Linked DNA regions of Homo sapiens: region 2 is linked to region 1. Evidence: fine-mapped expression QTL. A gene starts in region 1. The other region holds a variant in brackets. All regions are shown on one strand. Distances are between the middles of the regions.

Region 1 (8,338 bases):
CTAGCCAACATTGTATGGGAGAGTCTAGCCAGATTGGAAAAGAAGAAATAAAATTATCTATGTAATTTTTAAAATCCTATTTGATTTAGCAAGGTTGTAGGTTATAAAATGTAAAAGAAAAAATAAATTGTAACTCTCCAGATAAGCAATTAACAATAAGACCAAGCAATTTGTCCATTTTGTCTAAATTGTCGAACACAGTGGGTTAAAGTTGTTCATAATATCCTCTCCTTATCCTGTTAATGTGTGTAGAATCTGTATTAATGTCCCTTCTTTCAGTCCAAAAAGATTTAGTTGTTTGGTCTCTTTTTCTTTTGATTAGTCTTATTAGGGCTTATTGATTTTATTAATATTTTCAAAGAATCACAGTTGGTCTTTTCTCTATTGTTTTTGTCTTTTCCCTTTCATTTATTTCCACTCTTACCTTTATTATTCCTTCCTCTTTGATTTCCTTTTTGCTTAATTTGATTTTTTTAAAAAAATATTGATTTGGTTGATTTTGCCCTTGATTCTAGGGCATAACCCTTAGTCATTGGATGTAGTCATTAATTCTAAGATGCTGCTCAGTGGAATGTCCAAAGTTTTCACCCGGTCTGTATAACTTGGAAATATTTAAATTTCCGATATTTGAATTTAAATATTCAAAAATACACTGTCTTCCCAGCATCAGATGACTGCTGAAATTTCACTTTATCTCTTCCAGTCTTCCAACTGTTGCTGTCCATTGGGTTCTTTGGGTCTTACCACATGCATGTACTGTTATAATGTCAGCCAAAAATTTGAGGGGATTTTTTAGACAGATTTTGGGGTTCCCTTTTCAAGGTTCCTGCCCCAATTTTCAGTTGATCTGGCATTTCCAAATTTCAACTTCTGAGTGTTTTAGAATGGGAAGAATGCTGCTTTATACTGACACTCGATATTCCCCATGTACTGCACAGACTAATGCCCTCATGAAAAAAAGCTGGATAAATGTGGATCTTACCCACTATTTTTCCCATCTTTCAAGAATTGTATACCTTCCTGTGTTTTCATGCTATTTTGGTTGCTTTCCAGGGTCTTTGAAAAGAATCTCTTCCTTGTCCAGAGTTTATAGTTGTTATTTGCAACAGGGTCTGTCCAACATAAGCTACTGTGTCACTTCCAGAAGCTAGAAGTCCCTCTTTTATTTTTTGATTATTATCTTTGAAAAGTATGGAATCTTCCTGGATCAACTATTTTCAGCAGATTCATGCAGCATTTAAGTCAAAGCCATATCCCAGCAATTTTTCTGTGTGACACAGGATTTTATAGACAGTCTAGGTAAGAGATAATAAGTAGTAGCAATAAAGGTAGTGACAAGTGGTCAAATTCCATTTTCTTTTATTAACTATTTTATGTGCCAATATTCTGTTGTTAGAGAGTTCAGACAAGCTATAAGAAACTAAATTATCTTTTCTCTTTCGGCATTTCTCAAAACTTTTAAAATCAAAAGAATGGCATGTATTTTTAGTGACAGAAAAATATGCTTTGACAAATTGTTCTTTATTTCCTGTTTCCAAAAAGAGCTTACGGTTGTCTGGTGCAAGCATCATAGACATTGCAGATTTCTGGCTACATTTCTATCCCCTCTCTTCCATGCACAGCCCAAGTTCAGCTAAATTGTCTGACAAAAATTTTCATAGATGCTATGTAGAGAATTGCTGAAAGGAAGATGAGTGGAATCTGTGAGAACAGAGTCACCTCCAGTGCCTAAATAAGAAATGATTTCTGTAAAGAATATCTAGGAAGAAAATCAATAAATTGTTCACGATTGATTAGTCTGCAGGGAGTAATGTGGATGAACTTAAGTTTCTGGCTTGTGCAATGAAATGGATGGTGTTGTCAAGCCCTGAGACAGGAAACAGTAGATATAAGAGAGGAAAACATATACGATTTTCAGCTTTGGAGTATGAGATGTCCTTGAGATTTTTATTTAGAGGCACCTATCTAATCTCCATCTGCAGTATTGCCTCCATTTTTTTCTACATCATATGCATCTTATCATAGTGTAACTATGAATTTTTTAACTCCCATTTTTAATAACTAACGTTTCCCAGAAAATAAAGCAAACAAAAGGGAGCAAATTCTTAGTCTGGCATTTGAAGTATTCCACACTCTGGCTCTTTTTTTTTTTTTTTTTTAACTTTTCAACCTTATTGGCCATTATTCTCTACAAGATGGTGGTTTATAGTTTCTACATAATTAGGAAACACAGACAGTTACAGAGAAGGCCTAGTGAAATTCCATTAAGGCAAAGGTAGTAAGCAGAATATTGTGATTTGTTTGCTTAAAACCTTGAGATGAAAAGCAAAGTGAGTAAAAGACTAGATGACCAGGCACGCTGGTTCACGCCTGTAATCCCTGCACTTTGGGAGACCGAGGCGGGTGGATCACCTGAGGTCAGGAGTTCGAGACCAGCCTGGCTAACGTGGTGAAATCCTGTCTTTACTAAAAAATAAGCCGAGGCTGGGCACGGTGGCTCACGCCTGTTATCCCAGCACTTTGGGAGGCCGAGGCGGGTGGATCACGAGGTCAGGAGATAGAGACCATCCCGGCTAACACAGTGAAACCCCGTCTCTACTAGAAATACAAAAAAATTAGCCAGGCGTGGTGGCAGGAGCCTGTAGTCCCAGCTACTTGGGAGGCTGAGGCAGGAGAATGCTGTGAACCCAGGAGGCGGGGCTTGCAGTGAGCCGAAATCACACCACTACACTCCAGCCTGGGTGACAGAACGAGACTCAGTCTCAAAAACAAAAAAAAAAATCAGCTGATCAGCTGGGCGTGGTGGCACACGCCTGTAATCCCAGCTACTCTGGAGGCTGAAGCAGGAGAATCGCTTGAACCTGGAAGGCAGAAGTTGCAATGAGCTGAGATCAGGCCATTGCACTCCAGCCTGGCCGACGAGAGCAAAACTCTGTCTAAAAAATAAAAAATAAAAATAAAAAAAAGACTAGGAATTTTCCTTCTTGTACACCTTCGTGAAAATAAGTCTTTCTATTTGTGCAAGTTTAGAAACTGCAATTACAGACTTCTTGGCACTATGGAGCCTAATGGTCAAGCAACCCTGCAATGGAGAGACAGTATAAAAATTATCTGGACAATGCAACACTTTATCACTTGTTCAGAAATTTGAGAGGATGAGAATAATTAAGATTTCTGATAATGTGTTATGATCATGTATTTATTGCTACAGTTAGTTATATATTTTTTGGCACAATGTTTACCTGCTAATCTTAATGGAGTTAAGATAAAATTCAATTGTAGGCATTTTTCCCTTCTATTGGGTTAATTAGTCCAAGCGAACTGAGCAAAGGTTGCAGGGAGCCCCAGCATGGCTGAGGAAGACCTGGTGAGGCATCCACTGGCTGCTGGGAGGAGAGCATTAGAGGTACCTTCTGAACAGCACTGTCCAATAGAAATATAATGCAAGCCACATATATAATTCTAAATTTTCTAGTATTTATACTTAAAAAGCAAGAAGAAATAAGATGACTTTCACCCAACACTGCTTCCAAATAAGCAGTACTCTGGAGAACACGAGAAATCCTCAGAAAAATAAGCTGCAGCTCTGAGGTGCTGATTATGGTAGGGCAATCAATACAGATCAAAACATGGCACAGGGAGCTTAAGTTCCTAGGGAGAGTAGAAAATCGATAGAGCCAAGAAATAGCTCACCTTTGACTTATTTTTAACCTGAGTAGCTATCATATGCCAAGAGCTGTGCAGTTTTCATTTACCCCATGCCAAGAACGTAAGTAGGCTCTACTGACCAGGAAGTTAAGTAATATGCCCGAGGTACGTTTTCAATGGAAGAGGCTGACTGAGGGTCACCCAACTTATATCTCGAAATTTCACAATTTCTACAAGTTCTGTCCTGGGAGGCAAGAGTAGGTGAAACGAGCACACTCTACGCCAGGCAAACAAACCTCAACGCTTAGCCTCCCGGCACCTCCTAGGGCCGGAAGCTTCTCAGCCCAAAGCCGCTGCTGGCTGCAACCTCCGTCCCGCAGTCCAATTAGCAGCCGCGACCCGGCGCCCGCCCACGCCGCGTCACGAGTCAGCCAAAGATGGCTGCGCCCAGGTAATTTGAGCAAAGGCCACAGTGAACTCCGGCGTGGCTGAGGAAGGAGGAGGCACCCACAGGCTGCTGGGAGGAGAGCATAAGGTACTGGTATTCCGGGGGAGGGGGTGAAGTAAATGTCCCGGTGTCAGGAGAAGCACGACGCGGTGACACGCTAGCTACCAGCAGCGCTGCGCGTAAATGAGAGCAAGTAGAAGTGTAGTTAGCTCTTCCTGCTGTCTTTTCACTTTGCACTCTAGAAGGAAAGACCTTATATTTAAATTAACTCAGTAGAAAGGAGAAATGCCTGAGATTGAATTTAATCCCAGGTTTACTGTCAATTTACAAGGTGACCACGGCCAAATTTGATTTTCAGAGGTCCCACTTTACTTCTCTTTCAGATAGGCCCCACACTGCCTATCTCTCAGAGCTCTTCCAAGAATGACATGAGATAGGTAACACAAAAATCTTTCGAAATATTTGTAGTTTTTACAGGCGGCGTTGTCTTTGATAGATATTTGTTATTAATATCGGAGACAAAATGCCCACAGGGGCTGCCCAGTCAGCACTTATACTGAATTGAGTGACTTAATTGCCCTCAGTACAATATATACATACTAAATTTGATTATATATTTCACCACCCCATACACAAAATCATTCAGAGCTCCTGTACAGCAGAGATTGTGTCTTATCATCTTATCGTAGCCAAGGCCCTCAAAAATTTGACTACCAGAAACCTAGACATAAATTTCTAAGGCTGCTTTGTACTTATTAGGTTAGCTTTAAGTCTAGAGATATGGAATGTCAAGGTAATCAACATTTCCAAATGACCTCTTATCGATATAAAACAGGTAGCAATAAATATTTAAACGAGTGCCTGTAATGTTGTAGGAAATGAGAAAATCTGGTTTCATAAAAGCATGTTTTCCTTTGTTGTTATCCCTGAACTGTTTTTTTTTTTTTTTTTGTAGACCGAGTCTCGCTCTCACCCAGGCTGGAGTGCAGTGGCGAGATCTCGGCACACTGCAACCTCCACCTCCCAGGTTCAAGCGATTCTCCTGCCTCAGCCTCCCGAGTAGCTGGGATTACAGGCAGCTGCCGCCGTGCCTGGCTAATTTTTGTATTTTTAAAAGACAGGGAGTTTCACCATGTTGGCCAGGCTGGTCTCGAACTCCTGACCTCAGGTGATCCGTCTGCCTTGGCCTCCCAAGGTGCTGGGATTACAGGCGTGAGCCACTGCATCCAGCCTTTGTTTTTCTTAACTGTTACCCTGAAACCTGAGCCAAATCTTCATCATTCACCATTCCCTTCACATTTTCACCCTAACTAGTGCAGACATCAACAAACTACTGGCATGTAGGCCATATGCAGCCTATAGCTTGCCTTGGTACAGCCACCCAGCTAAGAATGATTTTTATGTTTTTATAGTTTTTTTAAAAACAAATATTCAACAAAGGCTGTATGTTACCTGCAAAGCCTACCACATTTACATCTGGCCCTTTAAAGTTTGCTGAGCCCTGATCTCAGGTATACCTAGAAATGAAATTGCTAGCTATGTGTGTCTTCTATCTGCTAAATAATACCAAATTCTTTCCCAAAGTGACTGTACAGTTTGGGTAAAGCTACCCCACAGAATGTACACAGAATGTAGTTTTAGCTACCCCGCATTCTTGCCAATAATTGGAATTGTCAGATTTTGATTTTAGCTAACCTATGGGTACCTATTGGTATCTCACTGTGGGTTGTTCCCCCAGTTATAATGAAGGTGAGCATATTTTCATGTTTATTGGCCATTTAACTTTCCTTTTTGTGAAGTGCCTGTTCAAATATTTTGTCAGTTTTTCCGTAGGGCTGCTTACCTTTTTCATGTTGATATGTAGTTCCATGTATGTTCTGGGTACTAACTACTCTTTTGTCAGTTCTATTGCATTTTCTCCCCCACTAGCTTATCTTTATGGTATATGTTGATAACCATAGGTTCTTAACTTCAATACTGTTAGTTTTATAAGTCTTTTATGTTTAGTGCTATTTGTGAATTGTTTAGGAAATACTTTCAAGGATTATGAAGATATTCTGTATTTCCTAAAAGCTTTATGTGTTGCTTTTCATGTTCTGGTTTCTGTTTCACTTAGATTTTTTTTTAATAATATGTATGCAATGATTTTTTTCAGATTAGCTCTACAGTATTATTTTTAGTCTTCAGAAGGTTTTTAAAATTCTTTGTATAAATTCTTGAGAAATGATATCTTCATGTTTTTTAAGGCTCAAAATGGAAAATCATAAATCCAATAATAAGGAAAACATAACAATTGTTGATATATCCAGAAAAATTAACCAGCTTCCAGAAGCAGAAAGGTAAGATCCCTTCTTAATTTAAAAACACCTTTTATCAGGTGGATTTTCACCATTGATTCATTATCTCAAGTTTATCTGGTTTGAGTATAAACAACATGGAATGTGAGAAGGAAATTGCCCTTTTCTTGCCTGGATGAGAGCGTTTAACCATTTTGCTCAACATCACATAGCTAATTGTGGAAGGTGAGGCTGGAACTCATGTCTTTGGACATACCTAATTGTATAATGTTTTGAGTTTTTCCATTAGGCTTGGAGTATAGTAAAATGTAAACATTTACAGACCCATTTAAATAACAAAACTTTAACTTTTAAAATGTCTTTTTTTTCCCAGTTCATTCTGTCAGTATGCTTACCAGTCTAAGAGTACCATAGAACACACATAGCAAGATAGAGAATGTCAGAGAAATAGGATCATGGCTAAAGATCTTTAAGATATTATTAAAGAGGGCCAGGCATGGTGGCTCACGCCAGTAATCCCAGCACTTTGGGAGGCCAGGGTGGGCAGATCACCTGAGGTCAGGAGTTCAGACCAGCCTGGCCAACATGGTGAAACCTCATCTCTACTAAAAGTACAAAAATTAGCTGGGCGTGGTGGCAGGTGCCTGTAATCCCAGCTACTTGGGAGGCTGAGGCAGGAGAATTGCTTGAACCAGGGAGGCGGAGGTTGCAGTGAGCCGAGATCACACCACTACACCCCAGCCTGGGCGACAAGAGTGAGGATCCGTCTCAAAAAAAAAAAAAAAAAAAAAAGATATTAAAGAGAAAAACCAATATAGGGAACATACTAATCTTTGCCAGGCAGCTAATGTGTACTTCCACAAAATGTCTTACACTTTGTTGACAGTCAAGAAGGTCTCTCTGACTATAAAAGGATGAAAAGCAGCCACCTGGGAAGGAGAGAGGGACAGTGTCTTAAGTAGAGGGAATGGCATATGCCTAGCCACAAGATAGCCAAGGCTTGTGGTACTTGAGTAACCATTGTTACCGAAGTACTAAGGAAGTGGGAGTAAGGACCAGGAATAGTTTTGAGCAGGGGGATGATGTTAGCATTTCTAAAGAACATTCCAGCTGCTTTTTGGAAAGCAGATTTGAGGTAGGAAAGAAAGGAAACACAAATACCAGTAGAAAAAATGGCACAGTAATCCTGGTGAGTGGAGATGGTAGGGGTGGTGACAGCTGAGATGAAAAGAGGATGCATTTAAAATACATTCTGGAAGCATAATCTTGCTATCTTCAGGAATAGAAACTGAACAAATCCCCATCTTGCTGCCACTTACCATCTTAATCAGGGAGAACCCATAAATCAAGACCAGTAGTGTTCAGAACAAGGATCTCCAAGGGGAAGAAAAAAAAGGCCAGTAGTAAGAACTTGGTGAGATCTTAAAAGCTCTTTCACCCCCCCTCCCCACACTCCAACTCCACTCCCTTCTAGTTGTTTTCCTGAGGTAACGGAAAACCTTTTAAAGCAAAAAAGGAACTATGTCCATGTTTCCAGGCCAGCAAGATAGGGAAAGTGAGAAAGACTAATAAAAGAGTAGTAGGCTGGGCATGGTGGCTCACACCTGTAATCCCAGCACTTTGGGAGGCGGAGGCGGGCTGGTCACCTGAGGTCAGGAGTTTAAGACTAGCCTGGCCAACATGGCGAAACCCTATCTCTACTAAAAATACAAAAATTAGCCAGATGTGGGGGCACGTGCCTGTAGTCCTACCCACTGGAGAAGCTGAGGCACGAGAATTGTTTGAACCTGGGAGGCGGATGTTGCATGGAGCTGAGATCATGCCACTGCACTCCAGCCTGGGCGACAGAGCAAGACTGTCTCAAAAAAGAGTAGATGGTGGCAGCTTTGAAGAGAAGAAAGCAGTCTGTCACTGGGTTCTTTACCAAATTAGAAAGAATACCTGG
Region 2 (8,338 bases), 40 kb before region 1:
TTTTTTTTTAATACAATTATAACTAAAGCCTTTTTTTTTAAGCTTCTGTGGCATTGTTGTAGGTATTACCCTAGTCGTTTATTCTTTTAAAGGGCAATTCTTGGCCAGGCACGGTGGCTCACACCTATAATTCCAGCACTTTGGGTGGCCAAGGTGGAAGGATGGCTTGAGACCGGGAGTTCGAGACCAGCCTGGGCAACAGAGCAAAACCCTTTCTCTACAACAAAATTTTAAAATTAGCCAGGTGTGGTGGTGCACGTCTGCACTCCCAGCTACTCAGAAGGCTGAGATGGGAGGATCATTTAAGCCCAGGAGTTCGAGGCTTCAGTGGGCCACCATCCTGCTACTGCACTCCAGCCTGGGCTACAGAGTGAGACCCTGTCTCTAAATAAATAAGTAAAATACCCTGTCTCTAAGTAAATAAGTAAAATTAAGAGCAATTCTCAAAAATGTATTAACAATATTCCCACAATCACATCTACAAATATAATTAGATAAGTAAGGGGAATTTCACTCACTCATTTAGCATATATTTATCCAATAACTATAAAGGGAAAATACTGTATTGATTCAAAACAGCTAGATGTTTTCTAAACCAGCAGAGCTTACTATGCCTCTCATCGCTGTAGGATAAAAATTTGACACATAAAAAATGCTAAAATATTTTTAAAAGGTCGTATATAATCAAGTCTCCAAGTTAGGCTTTCACACACCAGCATCTAGGGCTGGAATTGTGGCTGCCCTTTTATGCTGCTTTTGATTATTGAGAATGATCATCACCTGGAGTCAATTCTATTATGCTCTTCAACTCTCTCTACTCAAATCCTTATTTCTGGTTAATGAAAGTTTGAAGGTAATCTAAAAATGACAAATTAAACAAATGAGACAAATGGCAAGGATCTTTTCATACAAATTAAAAATCCCTAACCTAATCTCCATAAATTGAATAAAGTGGAAAGCTGAGATAATTATCCAAGCAAGTCAAGATTCATATTTTAATTGATGTTCAAATAACCAAGTGGAGAATTTTTCATCTAAATTGCCTCAATTCTCCTGTTTTCTTCATTAAACTCTACCTTCATAAGACTCCTGAGTCTACAGGAAAAAAAAAAAGCTAAATTTGGATTACTTGAGGGCAGGCACAGGAGGAAATGGGGGGGAAGGGAGAATCACTTTTTAAAATAAGAAATTTTTGCATGAAATATGCAACCAAGGGATAGTGAATGTTACATAATTAGAACTGTAGGTAATCATGTGTCTGTTAATTAAGGTTCAACTCTATATTGTACATGGTTTAAGAATAGCATCACCAGAAAGTTATAAATAATTTGGGACAGGTAATTTAAATTTGAAACAGTGATTGGCAATAGTGCTAACAAATGAACTTTTAGAGAAAAGAAAATGATGATACATAAAATCATTTGCCATGGCTTAAAAAATGAAGAATTACAGAACATACAGTGGTATCATTAGGAAAACTCAGATCAAAGTATAATAGAGAAAAGGTGAATTTAACAGGCAAATTTTGGAAAATAAAGCATTTAGAATAGTGAAATTATTTTACATAAATCTATTCAACATTTTTACAGTTTAAAAAGAACTTTTAAATGCATTATCTTATCTGATTCTCACCACTGAGAAGTCATACCTATTTTACATGAAACTGAAACTCAGAGTGGCTTGTCCAAGATCACACAGCTACTAAATAACAGATTTGGAGCTTAATCCAAAAGCTTTTGATTCCAAGTATAGTGTTCTCTCCACAATACCACCCTTAATCCTCCAGAAATGGAGATGAGCATATTTTTATGGAAAAAATAAAATAAAACTTGACCAATCAGACATAAATCGTATCACTGAATTTTAGAATCTAGGGTTAAATGTTGAATCACAAATGTTCAAATTTAGTCTTTTAATTTGTATTTGTAACATATAAATAAAAATGGTCCTACCTTTATAAGTCTGGTAGATAGAGAAAAAGGTTATTTCAGCCATTAATCAAGTATTTATTGACTATCTTACTATATCCAGACACTGGGAACACAGTACTGAACAAAATAGGCAATAGTCTACCCTCACAGAGATTTTAGTCTCAAAATAAAGATAATTAACTAGGAAATTCCAACAAAGTGAAAGATTAAAACAGAGTATAAGAATGCTATCACGGCTGGGAGCGGTGGCTCACGCCTGTAATACCAGCACTTTGGGATGCCAAGGCAGGCAGATCACCTGAGGTCAGGAGATCGAGACCAGCCTGACCAACATGGTGAAACCCCGTCTCTACTAAAAATGCAAAAATTAGCTGGACATGGTTGCGGGTGCCTGTAATCCCAGCTACTTGGGAGGCTGAGGCAGGAAATCACTTGAACCCGGGAGGCGGAGGTTGAAGTGAGCTGAGATCGTGCCACTGCACTCCAGCATGGGTGACAGACAGAGATTCTGTCTCAAAGAAAAAAAAAAAGAATGGTATCATAAGGTACCAGGTACCATGGGAGTAGAGAATTAAGTTGATGGCATACGTACAATGTTAACAAGTTTGGCCTTATACCAAGGGTAGAATGTCAAGTCATGGAAGATTTTTAACTGAAGAGGAATATGACCATTTTTTAGATTTAGAACGATTAACTATAGTATGATATGTATCCATTAAAACAAGCAATAACAATTAGACATTTTTCATATTTTAAATATATACAAAATTGAATGATCACAATTTTATCATTACTTATTAGACATTAGGACTAGAAAATGAAAGTGAGAGGTGAAGCCGGCTGGCTTCTGGGTCAGGTGGGGACTTGGAGAACTTTTCTGTCTAACTAAAGGATTGTAAATGCACCAATCAGTGCTCTGTGTCTAGCTAAAGGATTGTAAATGCACCAATCAGTGCTCTGTGTCTAGCTAAAGGTTTGTTAATGCACCAATCAGCACTTGGTAAAAACGGATCAATCAGCACTCTGTAAAACGGACCAATCAGCACTCTATAAAATGGACCAAGCAGCTCTCTGTAAAATGGACCAATCAGCAGGATGTGGGTGGGGCCAAATAAGGGAATAAAAGCAGGCCACCTGAGCCAGCAGCAGCAACCTGCTCAGGTCCCCTTCCACACTGTGGAAGCTTTGTTCTTTCGCTCTTCACAATAAATCTTGCTGCTGCTCACTCTTTGGGTCTGCGCCGCCTTTATGAGCTATAACACTCACTGCGAAGGTCTGCAGCTTCACTCCTGAAGTCAGCGAGACCATAAACCCACCAGGAGGAATAAATAACTCCAGACGCGCCACCTTTAAGAGCTGTAACACTCACCGCAAAGGTCTGCAGCTTCACTCCTAAAGTCAGCAAGACCATGAACCCACCAGAAGGAAGAAACTCTGGACACATCCAAACATCAGAAGGAACAAACTCTGGACACACCATCTTTAAGAACTGTAACACTCACCACGAGGGTCCACAGCTTCATTCTTGAAGTCAGAGAGACAAAGAACCCACCAATTCTGGACACATTTTGGCGACCATGAAGGGACCATCACCTTTCGCCAAGCAGTGAGATTATCGCCTATCGCCAAGTGGTGAGTACCATTGGACCACTTTCACTTGCTATTCTGTCCTATTTTTCCTTAGAATTCAGGGGCTAAATACCAGACACCTATTGGCCAGTTAAAAGTGACTAGCACAGCCGCCGGACTAAAGACACGGGTGTCAGGCTTTCTGGGAAAGGGCTCTCTAACAAACCCCGACTCTTCAGAGTTGGGAGCATTGGTTTGCCTGGAACCAGCTTCTGCATTTCCCGTACTTCTGGGCTGAGCCAAGGGTCGACAGAGGGGAAAGTCATTCAACTCCAGGGTCCCGACAACAAGTTGGTTGACCCTGCAGCCATGAGTGAAACTCAAAGTCATGTCGCCCAAGCAAGACTCATCCATCTATCTTGATCCTTGCCCCCGGGTCCTAAC[G/A]CCTGCCAGATAAACTTCCTCTCACCTGTCTTCTCCAAGGCTAGTCCCGCTTATAAAAACCACTCGCTCTCTCTGGTGCTTTTCTAGTTTCTCCTATAAGAATGATTTCTAGTATAAACTCCAGGACTCTGTTACCTTCTTTTGGCACCTGGGCTCACCAATCAAAAAGACATAATTTTTGCCCAAAGCCCCGTCATAGGGGAGACTATCTGGAATTTTAGGATCCCTCCTCAGACAAGCAGGCCTAATAAAGGCTATTCCTACAGCTAGGATATGGGGAGCCTCAGAAATTGTATCCTTCCTATTCATATAAGTGAAGATAAAAGGCATCAGTCTTCCAATTCTGGAGATCCCTCCCCTCCCTCAGGGTATGGCCCTCCACTTAATTTTTGGGGCATAACATCTTTATAGGACATGGGTAAAATCCCAATACTAACAGAAGAATGCTTAGGACTCTAACAAGTTTTCGACAATGCTTCAGTAAAGGTGACTACATTGGATTTTTCTCGGTCCTCTTTGTGGTCTAGGAGGACAGGCAAGGGTGCAGGTTTTCGAGAATGCATCAGTAAGGGCCACTAAATCCGACCTTCCTTGGTCCTCCTTGTGGTCTAGGAGGAAAACTAGTGTTTCTGCTGCTGTGGCGGTGAGCACAACTATTCTGATTAGCAGGGTCCAGGGACCGTTGTGGGTTCTTGGGCATGGGGAGAAACAAACCAAAACCATGGGTGGTTTTGTCTTTCAGATGGGAAACACTCAGGCATCAAAAGGCTCACCCTTGAAATGCATCCTAAGCCATTGGGACCAATTTGACCCAAAAACCCTGAAAAAGAGGTGGCTCATTTTTTTCTGCACTATGGTCTGGCCCCATTATTCTCTCTCTCTCTCTGATGGGGAAAAATGGCCACCTGAGGGAAGTATAACTTACAATACTATCCTGCAGTTTGACCTTTTCTGTAAGATGGAATGCAAATGGAGTGAAATACCTTACGTCCATGCTTTCTTTTCATTGAAGGAGAATACATAACTATGCAAAGCTTGCAATTTACATCCCACAGGAGGATCTTTCAGCTTACCCTCATATCCTAGCCTCCCTACAGCTCCCCTTCCCATTAAGGATAAGCCTCCTCTAATCTCCCCGGCCCAGAAGGAAATAAGCAAAGAAATCTCCAAAGGACCACAAAACCCCCCAGGCTGTCAGTTTTGTCCCCTTCAAGCTGTAGGGGGTGGGGAATTTGGCCCCACCCAGGTACATGACCCTTTCTCCCTCTCTGATTTAAAGCAGATCAAGGCAGACCTGGTGAAGTTTTCAGATGGTCCTGATAGGTACATAGATGTCCTACAGGGTCTAGGGCAAACCTTCAATCTCTTTTGGAGAGATGTCATGCTATTGTTAGCTCAAACCCTGGCCTTTAATGAAAAGAATGTGGCTTTAGCTGCAGCATGAGAGTTTGGAGATACCTGGTATCTCAGTCAAGTAAATGATAGAATGACAGCTGAGGAAAGGGACAAATTCCCTACTGACCAGCAAGCCATCCCCAGTATGGATCCCCACTGGGACCCTGACTCAGATCATGGGGACTGGAGTCATAAACATCTGTTGACCTGTGTTCTAGAAGGACTAAGGAGAATTAGGAAAAAGCCCATGAATTACTCAATGATGTCCACCATAACTCAGGGAAAGGAAGAAAATCCTTCTGCCTTCCTCAAGTGGCTACGGGAGGCCTTAAGAAAATATACTCCCCTGTCACCCAACTCACTACGGGGTCAATTGATTCTAAAAGATACATTTATTACCCAATCAGCTGCAGATATCAGGAGAAAGCTCCAAAAGCAAGCCCTGGGCCCTGAACAAAATCTGGAGGCATTATTAAACCAGGCAACCTCAGTGTTCTATAATAGGGACCAAGAGGAACAGGCCCAAAAGGAAAAGTGAAATCAGAGAAAGACCACAGCCTTAGTCATGGCCCTCAGACAAACAAACTTTGGTGGTTCAAAGAGGTCAGAAAATGGAGCAGGCCAATCACTCGGTAGGGCTTGTTATCAGTGTGGTTTACAAGGACACTTTAAAAAAGATTGTCCAATGAGAAACAAGCTGCCCCCTCGTCCATGTCTGCTATGCTGAGGCAATCACTGGAAGGTGCACTGCCACAGAGTGCAGAGGTTCTCTGGGCCAGTAACCCCCAATAAGAAGACCCAACAACAGGACTGAGGGTGCCTGGGGCAAGCACCAGCTCATGTTATCACCCTCACTGAGCCCCGGATACGTTTAACCATTGAGGGCCAGGAAATTGACTTCCTCCTGGACACTGGTGCGGCCTTCTCAGTGTTAATCTCCTGTCCCAGACGACTGTCCTCAAGGTCCGTTACCATCCGGGGAATCCTGGGACAGTCTGTAACCAGGTATTTCTCCCACCTCCTCAGTTGTAATTGGGAGACTTTGCTCTCTTCACATGCCTTTCTTGTTATGCCTGAAAGTCCCACACCCTTATTAGGGAGGGATATATTAGCCAAAGCTGGAGCTATTATTTACATGAATATGGGGAACAAGTTATCCATTTGTTGTCCCCTACTTGAGAAGGGAATCAACCCTGAAGTCTGGGCATTGGAAGGATAATTTGGAAGGAAAAAAATGCCCGCCCAGTCCAAATCAGGCTAAAAGATCCCACCACTTTTCCTTATCAAAGGTAACATCCCTTAAGGCCTGAAGCTCATAAAGGATTACAAGATATTGTTAAACATTTAAAAGCTCAAGGCTTAGTAAGGAAATGCAGCAGTGACTGCAACACCCCAATTCTAGGAGTACAAAAACTGAATGGTCAGTGGAGACTAGTGCAAGATCTTGGACTCATCAATAAGGCAATAATTCCTCTATATCCAGTTGTACCCAACCCCTATACCCTGCTCTCTCAAATATCAGAGGAAGCAGAATGGTTCACTGTTCTGGACCTCAAGGATGCCTTCTTCTGTATTCCCCTGCACTCTGACTCCCAGTTTCTCTTTGCCTGTGAGGACCCCACAGACCACACATCCCAACTTACACAGACGATCTTGCCCCACGGGTTTAGGGATAGCCCTTACCTGTTTGGTCAGGCACTGGCCCAAGATCTAGGCCACTTCTCAAGTTCAGGCACTCTGGCCCTTCAGTATGTGGATGATTTACCTTTGGCTACCAGTTTGGAAGCCTCATGCCAACAGGCTACTCTAGATCTCTTGAACTTTCTAGCTAATCAAGGGTACAAGGCATCTAGGTCAAAGGCCCAGCTTTGCCTACAGCAGGTCGAATATCTAGGCTTAATCTTAGCCAGAGGGGCCAGGGCCCTCAGCAAGGAATGAATACAGCCTATACTGGCTTATCATCACCCTAAGACATTAAAACAGTTGCAGGGGTTCCTTGGAATCACGGGCTTTTGCCGACTATGGATCCCCGGATACAGCGAGATGGCCAGACCACTCTATACTCTAATCAAGGAGCCCCAGAGGGCAAATACTCATCTAGTAGAATGAGAACCAGGGTCAGAAACAGCCTTCAAAACCTTAAAGCGGGCCCTAGTACAACTCCAGCTTTAAGCCTTCCCACAGGACAAAACTTATCTCTATATGTCACAGAGACAGCAGGGATAGCTCTTGGAGTCCTTACGCAGGCTCATGGGATGAACCCCCAACCAGTGGCATACCTAAGTAAGAAAATTGATGTAGTAGCAAAAGGCTGGCCTCACTGTTTAAGGGTAGTTGTGGCAGTGGCCATCTTAGTGTCAGAGGCTATCAAGATAATACAAGGAAAAGATCTCACTGTCTGGACTACTCATGATGTAAATGGCATACTAGGTGCCAAAGGAAGTTTATGGCTATCAGACAACTGCCTACTTAGATACCAGGCACTACTCCTTGAAGGACCGGTGCTTCAAATACCTATGTGTGCAGCCCTCAACCCTGCCACTTTTCTCCCAGAGGATGGGGAACCAATCAGCATGACTGCCAAACTTATAGTCCAAACTTATGCCGCCCGAGATGATCTCTTAGAAGTCCACTTAGACTGATGGAAGTTCATTTGTGGAGAATGGGATACTACGGGCAGGTTATGCCATAGTTAATGATGTAACCGTACTTGAAAGTAAACCTCTTCCCCCAGGGACCAGTGCCCAGTTAGCAGAACTAGTGGCACTTACCCGAGCCTTATAACTGGGAAAGGGAAAAAGAATAAATGTGTATACAGATAGCAGATATGCTTATCTAATCCTACATGCCTATGCTACAATATGGAAAGAAAGGGAGTTCCTAACCTCTGGGGGAACCCCCATTAAATACCACAAGGAAATCATGGAGTTATTGCACTCAGTGCAAAAACCCAAGGGGGTGGCAGTCTTACACTGTCGAAGCCATCAAAAAGGGGAAGG

Direction of the effects. Alleles are on the strand shown, and positions count from the first base shown. SD is a standard deviation of normalised expression in the study named.
In carriers of allele G in region 2, the expression in tibial artery of the gene that starts at base 4,061 in region 1 tends to be higher than with A alone (small effect, 0.34 SD a copy in GTEx).

Evidence for each region.
Region 2: its variant is fine-mapped to the expression of TMEM126A in tibial artery (GTEx, PIP above 0.99).

The regions. Positions count from the first base shown.
Region 1 is chr11:85,643,907-85,652,244 of GRCh38, forward strand. TMEM126A (transmembrane protein 126A) reads left to right here and starts at 4,061. Exons shown (of 5, transcript NM_032273.4): 1 at 4,061-4,183; 2 at 6,343-6,435. The coding sequence starts at 6,350. RefSeq lists enhancers at 3,822-3,871, 4,042-4,311.
Region 2 is chr11:85,603,532-85,611,869 of GRCh38, forward strand. All of the region lies in intron 2 of DLG2 (discs large MAGUK scaffold protein 2), which reads right to left. Among named protein-coding and RNA genes, the nearest start is that of DLG2, 20 kb to the right of the region's middle. RefSeq lists enhancers at 2,506-3,705, 4,448-5,407 and a silencer at 5,821-6,021. The variant G/A (reference allele first, on the strand shown) is at 3,945.